Linked DNA regions of Homo sapiens: region 1 is linked to region 2. Evidence: fine-mapped expression QTL. A gene starts in region 2. The other region holds a variant in brackets. All regions are shown on one strand. Distances are between the middles of the regions.

Region 1 (5,377 bases), 43 kb after region 2:
TGTTCAGCCTATGTGGGGAAAATTTTGGGGACTTCTAATTGTTTTATAGGTTTAGTACATAAAAGGAAGCGTTTAAAAAACTTGCAGTTATTAATTTTAAGCAAAAATTCTAAATGGGGGGACATGTATATGCTTTTCTGCCTTCATTGATGCCCACTGAAAGCCAGTGGGCTAGCTTGACCCCCCCAGGGTGCTCGCCTCTTGGAATGAGTATCCACTGAGAGAATGCACTGATTTGATATTAGCTCAGTGTGTTCCACCACCTTTGTAAAGGTGTTTGTGTATGTGCACATCTGTACACCCCTGCACGCTCATAGACACCTGCATATAACTAATTCACAGGAGAGTGGACATGGACTGCTGGAGAACACATCACAGTGGAATGGCTTCCAAATTCAGCCCTTGATACAAAAATAGTGTGGGTTAGAACTAGACTTAAGCCATTTAGAAAGGTTCCACTATGGAGGCCACCCTACCAGCCATTCAAACAGCCCATGTTTCCTCCTTCCTGGAATAACGACTGTATGTTCAGTTGAGCATCCAGTGAAGAAGTTTGTTTTAGAGGACATGCACAAAAAATGTACTTGAACTAGAAGAAGACTCAGTGTTTCTAAGTGCATTTCAGGAAAGCATCAGGGAAACTGAGGGAATAAGGATGACTTCTGGAGTTTCCCTGTCTTCTCCACAGCCCTCCACCCCAGTGGATCTACCTTAATTTGCATGAGTTAAATGATTGTGTGATGTCTTCTCTGTGTTACAAATTTTGTTGTTAATTTATCGAGGAAACAATGTCTGGGAAACTTTCTCTATATTTCTTATGGCTGTTAATCTGTATTGTTAAGATATAATTTATATCCTGATCATCCTGAATTTTTTGCTTTTTAAGATTATATCAACTATGGAACTCCTGAATTCTGACGGATAGAAAAGATTTATAAATTAAAGGGTAGATTACAGGGCTAGAGAAACTACTCTCTGCTCTAGGTAACTTGCATTCTTAGGAGTGACTAAAATTTTGCAAGCTATATAGACCAATTCCTACAATCATGAGAGGAACAGACATAATTTTTACCAAGATAGGATGCAGATGGTAGTGTGGCCTGACAGAGGCTGGGAAATACCAGGAGTATCAGGATAGATTGTGAATTTTCCATCTCTGGAGAGCTTTCAATTTAGGATAGATTTTCATCTTTTTATGTTGAAATAAATTTCTCCGTGCAGATGGAAACATGAATCCTTATATCTGTTTTAAGGACTGTACTTTGTAGGTAGAAAACCAAGGTTGCATCTTATTTTGTTTTTGGACCTGGTGTTTATGCATTCAGAGTTGTCCAAATATGAATTAAGTCACAGGTGGATTCTTCTTGTCCTAGATATGCTGTAGAGTAGTATCCTTTTTTGTTCCCCCTGAGAACTGGGTTTGTTGTAATGTAAAAGATGGGGGGTTAGCAGTGTGATTTTTTTTTTCTCTTCCCAATTTGTGTGAAGATTAAGTTAGTTTCTGGAAGGCAGCTCTGGAAAGGTAATGGTACTGGGAAGAGAGGGGTTTGAGTTATTTTAGCACCTTTCTCTGAAGAGGTGCAAGAGAACAAAGAGAGTAGCAGCAGAGAAAGTGGTCCACTCCAGGCTGTGGTGTTTTCTAGGTTTGATAGTTAATATTATGTTGAGGGTCGCCATGGGAATAATTGGTCTTGGCAAAACTACAGGATGCCCCCTTTTTATTGAATAAAATTGGTTGAGTTGCTGGGCCTCATGAATCATGGATGAAATGGTAGAGCTGAAAATGGCCAGTAAATGAAAATCTGGAGCACACTTAAAGGTCACTTCCAAGTACTTGCTGTTTGCTGCAGTCAGGGTTCAGTGGGCCAGTAACCTTTCATTTCTTTTAAATTAAACTTTCTATTTTGAGATAATTCACATGCCATTTTAAGAAACCATACAGAGAGATCCTGTGTCCCTTTGCCCAGTTTCCCTCAATGGTAACTTCTTACAAAACTGTATTTACTATCACAAGTAGGATATTGATAATCGATATATTCAAGGTACAGAGCATTTCCATTATCTCAAAGATTCCACATATTGTCTTTTTTTTTTTTTTTTCAAACAAACAGACAACAGTATCTTGCTCTGTCACCCAGGCTGAAGTACAGTGGCATGATCATGATTCATTGCAGCCTTGACCCCCACGGCTTGAGTGATCTTCTCATCTCAGCCTCCTGAGGAGCTGGGACCACAGGTGTGTGACACAGTGCCTGGCTAATTTTTTTTATGTTTTATAGAGACGGGGTCTCCCTGTGTTGCCTAGGTTGGTCTTCAACTCCTGGGTTCAAGTGATCCTCCTGCTTCAGCCTCCCAAAGTGCTGGGATTAGAGGAATGAGCCACCGCACCCAGCCACGTGTTGCACTTTTATAGACGTACTCTCTTCCTTGCCTCTTTCACCTCTTAAACTCTGGCAACCAAGAATCTATTCTCTGTTTCTATAATTTTATTTCAAGAATGTCATATCAATGGAATCATACCTTTTGGGTTGCTTTTTAACTTATCATAGTTCCACGGTTGGTTCCATGTGTCAGCAGTTCCAGGGTTTGTAGCACGTGTCAACAGTTTGTTCCTTTTTTATTGATGAGTAATGTTCCATGGTATGGATGTACTAACACTTAACCATGCACCTGCTGAAGGATGTGTGGGTTGTTTATCATTTTGACTTTATGAATAAAGCTGCTGTGATCACTCATGTACAGGTTTTATGTTTAAAAATAAAATTTCATTTCTCTGAGCTAAATACCAAAGAGAGCAAAAGCTGGGTTATATGGCAGTTGTGTGTTTAATTTCTTAAGAAACCGCCAAACTGTTTTCCAAAGTGGCGATACCATTTTACGGTCCCACCAGCAATGTATGAGTTACCCAATTTCTTTGTGTCCTTGGCAGAATTTGGTGGCGTCACTATTTAAAAAAATTTTTAGCCATCCTGTTAGATATATAGTGATATTTCATTGTGGTTTTAATTTCATTTCCCTAATGGCTAATTATGTGGAACATCTTTTTATGTGCTTAATTGCCATCTGTATCCTCTTTGGTGAAGTGTCATATATCCTCTTATGTGTTTTGCTGATGTTCTAAATGTATTATTTTTCTGCTGTTGAGTTTTGCGAGTTCTTTACATATTCTAGATGTTAGTCCTCT[C/G]TTTGGATATGTAGTTTGAAAACTTTCTCTGAGTAGCTTGTCTTTTTAATCCTCTTCCTAGGGTTTTTGCTTAGCAGCAGTTATTAAGTTTTATGAAATCCAGTGTATTGGTTTTTGTTTTTATTTATGCTTTCGGTATTATTAAAGCCAACCCCTGGGGACAGTTATCTTGCCTCTTTTTCATACCCTAACCCCTTGGAGGCACAGACATTGTCAGTCATTCACTCCCCAGGGATGTTGCTCCTCTCTAAGGATTCTTGTCTTTGGCTCATGACCACTCTAATTCGTGAAGTCAGTTTAGATCCATCAATCCAAAGGCAAATTACAGTGAACATCTACCAGCAGATCATCGTCATTGCAATGTACAGTGTAATTAGGGTCCATGAGCTCCCACCACCAAAACAAACTTCCCAACCTTCACCAGCCCAGACCTACACAGTCCTGGCTGGGCCAGCAGTGCAACTACCTCAAGGGCCTGAGGAGCATAATGGCATTTCTCTTAGTTCATTTAGCATGTTTATGACTGATCATTGAAGAATTTTTGTTTTATGAATTTTTTATCATGGCTGCATTAAAAGCTTTATCAGATAATTCTAACATCTCTGCCATCTTGGTGTTGGAATCTGTTGCCTTTTCTCATTCAGTATGGATTTTCCTGGTTCTTGGTGTGATTTTTTTCATTGAAACCAGAACATTTTTTGCATTGTGTTTGAGACTCTGGATCTCATGTAAACTTTCTGTTTTAGGTAGCTTTTTTTTTTAAATAGAGGAAGGGGTGTGTGTGTGTGTGTGTGTATGTGTGTGTGTGCGAGAGAGAGAGAGACTGACCTTGTTATGGTCTGTGGGTCAGTGTCTTCAAGATAGTTAGGTTTAGGAAGGGACAACGTGATCATCCCCAGGGGTTGACTCTGGTGTTCCTGCACCACTCTGGGCTCACTCTGGGACCGTAGTGTTTCTTTTGGATCCTCTGAGCAAGTAAGTCTCAACTCTGTCCTTTAAAGTCACCCAGTGGAGCTAAAAGTAGCAACGACAAAACAGAATGGTTTCTTCCTGCACTAGGAGATTCTGATCCTGCTGATCTGGGGTGGAGATTAGGCACTGGTATTCATAAAAAGCCTTCCAGGTGATTGTTACGTGTAGCTGGAGTTCAGAGCTGCTGCTCTGCAGACAAAGAGAACCTGAATGTTGAACATCACCTTGTGGTTTTTAAAAAACGTAGAAGTTTGCTGTCAAACTCAGAGTTTTCTACATCCATTCTAGGTGATGGTGGGGAAATGTGAAAGGCCACAGGATAGACTTGGCCCCTCTTTTAGTAGTGACAGTCTTGCCTGAGAAAAATAATGTTTTAAATTACCTTCTGACCCCTTCCCCAGGCAAAAATCAAAACCGATCTTTTATAGAATAGAATGTAAAATTTGCATGCACTTTTAAAGAAGGAAAATAAAACCCAAACCAGGTATGATTCTTGAGAAAGCACACGTTTGTGGTGAGCTCCAGCACTAGGAGTGTGCGTTCACAGAGTTCTTTTGCTGGGGTAACTTTGGAACTGTATTAAGATGCACCATGAAGACCTGGAAGGCAAAATATTGCTGAGTAATATTTATAACTCTTATTGTTATGTAACCTAGGTGATTGGGCCAGAGTGTTTTATAGTGCGAATCATTTTTATTTAGAAGACTTTAACTTCTTTTCATCATCTTTAACTGTCAACGTATTTATTCCCCTGACTATAGATATTTCTTATAATGCTGCTTTTTGCTCTTCTTTTTGATCTACAGCTTTGGGTGATCCCATGGCTCTGAATTCTAAACTTCTGTTCATTCTTAGAAGATTAATCCAGGAAACTGTTGGGTAATGAGAACATTCTCAGCCTTTTTGTTTCCACTCCCAATCACTGTCAGCATAGATGAACTCCTTTCTTCATGGCTACGGTTTGTAATATCAGCTTAATAGTCTTGTTGGGGACCTGAGTTATTCCATGGGGATGCCTCTGACATTTGAAGAATGCTATTTATTTCTAAACTGAGCACTCATTCCACACTAATAATTCTCTTTGTGGGAAGTTCTCACAGAAGATGGGTGCTTCCTACCCTGCAGGGTTACATTCTGACAGAACTGACAAGTGTATACATGAGTTGCTCTCTTTTACCACGTATTCATGAAAAATGAATGTTTTCTCTTCTTCATATATTA
Region 2 (5,377 bases):
GTCCCAGCTACTTGGGAGGCTGAGGCAGGAGAATTGCTCCAACCCGGCAGGTGGAGGTTGTAGTGAGCCGAGATCGCGCCACTGCACTCTGATAGAGCGCGACTCTGTCTCAAAAAAAAAAAAAAAAAAAAGAAAGATGACAAAGTGCAGGAGGAAACCTTAGGGAGGGATGAATATGTGTACTAGCTTGATTATGGTGGTGGGTTCATGGGTGCACACTTATGTCAAAACTTATCAAATTGTACACTTAAAAATTATGCAGTGAACTGTATGTAAATTATATGCAATAAAGCTATCCTTAGAAACTCTGTGGAATCCTCTTGTCACTAGTAATCTCTAATTTTGTGTTAAATAGATTTTAAATGTTCTTTTCTCCAGTCTCCGATAAAGAAATGGAAAAGAAAATGCTTCACTCAGGAAAGAGTGTCATATGTATGGGACCTTATGGCTTTGTAACTTACCTTATGAGGAGCTGGGAACAGAATCCCTGCCCATCCAAAACCCTCAGCCTTCTCACTGCCACTGGAGGTAAAAAAACAAAAACAAACAACAGCAAAACCAAAAATCAGAAAGCAAAAAAACCAAATCAAAGGGCCAAAAAACAGGTGAGAGCAAAACTCAAAAAAACTGGGAACAGATGATTGCTTGAACCTTTTGTTTTTGCAGCCTCAAGTGTCTCGGTTGGATATGGAGGTAAAGAATGAAAATGTTAAGCCATCTTTCAATCACATTTGGTAACTCCTGTCAGGAATACTGTATTACAGAAAAGAAAAGCCTCTACAAGCAGAAATGCTAAAATCTAGCATAATAAGGTGTCACCTCATAAGGCAGGCAAGACTTTGACAATAAAACAAAGCTGGACACGAAATTTGATCAGAAATTCAAAACCTGAGTCAATTTCACAGAAAATTCAGAAGATAAAATAGTTTTATTCATAGCCTAGGTAAAGTTCAGAAATTTATATTGCACTTTGGCGGTTATGCTGATCCTGTGTTTGGATGGGGTCACAATAGCAGGGAAGGCCGAGGCTTCCTACAGAAGGTCCTTTGTGGCAAATCACTATGAGAGGAAACTCCATCAAAAGTCGCCAATTGTTCATTTCATTTCTACTGTGCTACGGAAGCCTGGTTTTGTTTTAAGGGCTAACGTCCTAGGTTTTAAGCAATTTTTTTTGAGCTTTGGCTACCCAGCTAACAAGCAGTAGAATAGTCAACTCAAAACTACGTCTGATGCCAAAGCTCTAACTCTAAAACTCAATATAGAGTTTTTTTTCTGTGACACCTCCCCTCGTGTCTCCCCTAACTGCGACTCGCATTAACTCGCTGCTGGTTCCCAGCTGGAGAGCACAGATTGCACCTGCTCCGAAGCCCAGCGGGGCTCAGTGTCGTCCGCAGCTCAACCTCGGCTGCCTGTGCACGGACATCGGGACCCACCAGGGGTCACTGCAGCTTCAGAGCTATTGTGCCCCTCAGTCCTGGACGCGGCCGACCGCGCGGAGGGCGTGGGATTGGGACCGCCGAACCGTGGGGTCCGAGCAGCACCGCGTCCTCTTCTCCCCACCCAGCCTCCAGGTCTCTCGGGGGAAGGACGCAGCGAGCGCTGGACTGCCCCGCGGCTTGGGCGCAGTGTGCGGCTTGGCAGCGTGGACTCGCCGGCACCTCGCCGCTGGGACCACGGTCTCTGCCCCGCCCTCCGCCCCCAGCTGATACCCCGCCCAGAAGGGGCTCCCCTGCCGCGGCCAGCGCTGGACTGGGGGGTCCGCTTCGTTCCAGGGCTTTTTGCAGACGCCTGGACCGGGCCCACATGCACCTGGGCTGCTCCCGCCCGGGGCGCCACCACTCGCGCGGCCAAGAGAACTTTCCCCGGAGCCTCTGCGGCCTGGCGCGCCCAGGGCGCACCCCCCGCTCGCCCGTCCGCCGCGTTCCCAGCTGGGGCGTCGCTCCTCCGCCCGCAGGTCCCCGCCTCCCCGCTTTGCTGAATGTCCTGAAGAAGCCGTATTCCGCCGCCGCGGCAGGCATTCCCGGAGGGAGAGCTTGAACTTGGCTACACACGGCCACCCGTAATGAGCTCGGGAGTCCCCGGACGGGAGCCACACCCCGCGACGAGCTGACCTCCCCTCGCTGGTCTGGGTAAGGAGCCTGCTGCCCTTTCCGCCTCTCTTCCGGCTCCTCGGCGCTTGCGGCTGGGGGACGGGGTAGCGGACGGAGCGACGACCTTCGCCTCTGCCCCTGCGCCCATGGTCGGGGCGTCGTGGGTGCTCCTCACACAAAAGAAAAGCCGAGCGCTTCATACTCGGCGGATCTGACCCGGGGCTGCGGGGCGGGGTCGCGGCTGGAAGTGCGCGCCCGCGGGGGACTCCGCAGGCCGATCGGACGCCAGGACGTCGGGGCCGCGCTCAAATCCGTGCGGCAGGAGGGAGGTGCAGCGCTTCCAGGGTTTTCCAAGGCCGGGGAGAGCCTCGAATTCCCATCACTCCTTTTTCTGGTCTCTTGCCCCCAGTGCCAGGAGACTTTTGTCGTCCCCAGGACTGCGGGAGGGGCCCCGCGCCCCCGCCTTCGGAGGAGCTCGAGCCGCAGGATGCGCGGGGACGCGCCACCGCCCTCCGCGCCCAGTTCCGCCGGCGCTTCCCCGGCGGCTCCCGGGCGCTGACTCTCCCGGGCTTTTCCGCCTTTCTCGCTCCCGCCCCGCCGGGCGGTTCGGCGGCCGGTCCCCGGACCCCGCCGGGAGCTGCTCGTCTCACCCTCGCCACGGCGCGGACAATAAATTAATGCATCGCGCTTGAGTGGAGGGGGCGGCTGGGCGCCTCGGTGGTAGCTTTCTCTCCTGGCTGGAGACGACCACAACCGACATGGGCTGTTTCTGCGCTGTTCCGGAAGAATTTTACTGCGAAGTTTTGCTCCTGGATGAATCCAAGTTAACCCTTACCACCCAGCAGCAGGGCATCAAGGTGGGTGCGGCCCGGAGCGCGTTCCGGGGGTTGGCGGCAGGGCGGGTGCGGGGGTCCATCGCTTTGAGGGCTGTCACCGGTGGGTCGAGGGCGGCGGCCGCGACTCTGCGCGGTGGGGAGGAGAGGCCGCTGTCCCCTGCGCGCAGGGAGAGGGTGGACGTACCAGGGTGAGTTAACTTTGAGTTCCTTCATAAAGCAAAGTTGAGTTTGACGTTTCTAAGTTTACTCAGCACACCGGCTCCCAGCAGCACCCCAAAACTCTTCCCCAAACCGGTTTTCTCCAAAAGCCTCTGGGTGCCCCGCAGCTCTCAAAGAGGGGCAGAATGGGTTATACCAGCTGCGTCCCACCAGTGTGGAAGGCATGGTTTCCCTCGACTTTGTTGAAGGCGTTTTCCTTGACAGTGTTATTAGGGAAGTGAACTAGTTCACTCGTTGAAACGCATTAATGGGTCATTGTGATTGTTTTGCGTGGGTTCGTAGTTGGGTAATGCTACGTTTGGACGGAAAATATTTTCCCTTTCTACAGCGACCTGGGTTTATCCTCACATTTAAGTAAACATCTCTCAAAGCGACCCAGTAATAACTTTGCTCCTGTTTGTGGGTCATTAAAATGCAATCACTACATTAACCTAGAGAGCCCAAACAAAAAGGCAGCAGAGCTCGCAGAGATCCTCTTCCTTACATTGGATGAGAAGGTACGTATGTTTGTAGTGACAACCTGACCGACGCGCCTGCGTGCTTGTTTTGCTTTTGCAACAGTGTTAACTACCTAAAGGAGATCTAAATCCGGAGCGTTTTGTTGTTTTGTTTATCTTTCTCTTTCAGTTTTAGATCGCTAAGGCATTTTAGATAAGGCAACAGCTGAGTCTGGTGAAGGGAAACCGCCCCCCCGCCCCCGCTCTGATAGAGCTGGCTTTCTGAGAAATCGAGTTCAGGCTGCCAAGTATCCTCTCTTAGTCGCTTCATCTCAGAAGTTAATCATAATGGGGTAGGCCCTGGGCATTTCCTTTTGTGAATCAGTTTTTACATAGTTTTATGCACACTAGGATAACTATTCCTGGCTAAAAGTTTCAGCGTTAATGTTGCCATTCTTAGTGTACAGAATTCCAGTTTCATAGGTGTAATTCTTTTGCGGGAGAAAGGAGCAAAAATAATCAGTTAAAGCTACAAGATTGTTAACCCTTTCCTTTAGGAGGTTGTTTTGAATATTGTTTCCCCAGTAATTATACTGAGCAAAATTCAGTTCGATTCTCATTCGGTATTTCCTTTCAAGACCAATAAAATAGACTCTTTTCGGGGAGGGTGTACATTTTGTATTTTTAACTTTTCTTTATGTTCCAAAATATTTCTCCTCTCACCCGCCCAATGAAATCAGGAAAATATTGTAACTTACAAGATGATGTAACATTCTTTGGTGTACTGTATGAATAAAATAGGCAAAAATCACAAAAACATCCTAAATTGTAGATAATATATAGATTCTTGTGTCGAGATAGAAACAATTAGAAAAAGGTAACTGATGATCAGATACTAAGACAGTAAAGAAATCTTTTTGAAGTGCAAAGTCTAAATTATCTGGAGTCTAAAGTCATCTGGAATGTGAGCTTCCTATTTAATCATCAAAGTCATGCCTATCAGCTGTAGAGCGTGTACATTATTCTGTCAAGAGAGCAGCCAGGACTTGGGATCAAATGGAATAATTTTGTCAAAGAAACATGAATCAAAAATCCTGATCCATAATTATTTTTTATAATCCAGTGGTGCTTATCTTGTTTTACAAATGGGCTGAAAATTGGTGAGTGATTCAAAGGCAACAGCAACTATGTAATACTGTTACTTTGGATATGGGCCATATAACTAAACAATAATTTAAGCAGGCTGTTGTTGGAAATAATCATTTAACAACAGGCTTGGCCTCTGTCCTTGTCACAAAAGCATGCCACAATTATTTTGATGGCCATGTGTGTAACACAGATGTTGTCTGCTAAAGCTAATCACATTATCTTCTATGCTACCTTAAAAGTGTATGTGTTAAACACCTACCCACCCTTGGCGTGTACTAAATTAAATATATTTGCATATTTATAAATGGTGTGTATAAAAAAACTTGCATGTAGAGGTATTCAAACATTGGATGAACATGTTTATGTTCTGTACATACTTGACATTTTAAAAAACTTTTTCCTAACCTTCCTGTATTATGGTGCATAGGTACAATTGATGTGTGTTGCATTAATTACTTAAAATTAACTCCTACTTTAGTTTGTAAATGAAAAAGTAAACAGTTACTTCAAAGTTAATAGCCAGTAGCTACCATTATGGTGTTTTTCCTTGAGATAGTATACTTAGTAATTTTGATTACCACTAATTAAAGTCAAAATTAAGCAGGCAACATCAATTAGCCTACTGTTCTCTGAAATTAACTAGAAA

What was found.
Region 1: its variant is fine-mapped to the expression of EPB41L4A in whole blood (TOPMed, PIP 0.97).

What each region holds. Positions count from the first base shown.
Region 1 is chr5:112,373,939-112,379,315 of GRCh38, reverse strand. The region is part of intron 1 of EPB41L4A (erythrocyte membrane protein band 4.1 like 4A); the gene reads left to right. Among named protein-coding and RNA genes, the nearest start is that of EPB41L4A, 43 kb to the left of the region's middle. The variant C/G (reference allele first, on the strand shown) is at 3,185.
Region 2 is chr5:112,416,511-112,421,887 of GRCh38, reverse strand. It overlaps EPB41L4A (erythrocyte membrane protein band 4.1 like 4A), which reads left to right and starts at 2,611. Exons shown (of 23, transcript NM_022140.5): 1 at 2,611-2,947. The coding sequence starts at 2,849. EPB41L4A-DT (EPB41L4A divergent transcript) reads right to left here and starts at 2,305. Exons shown (of 1, transcript NR_027706.1): 1 at 910-2,305. RefSeq lists a silencer at 1,857-1,946.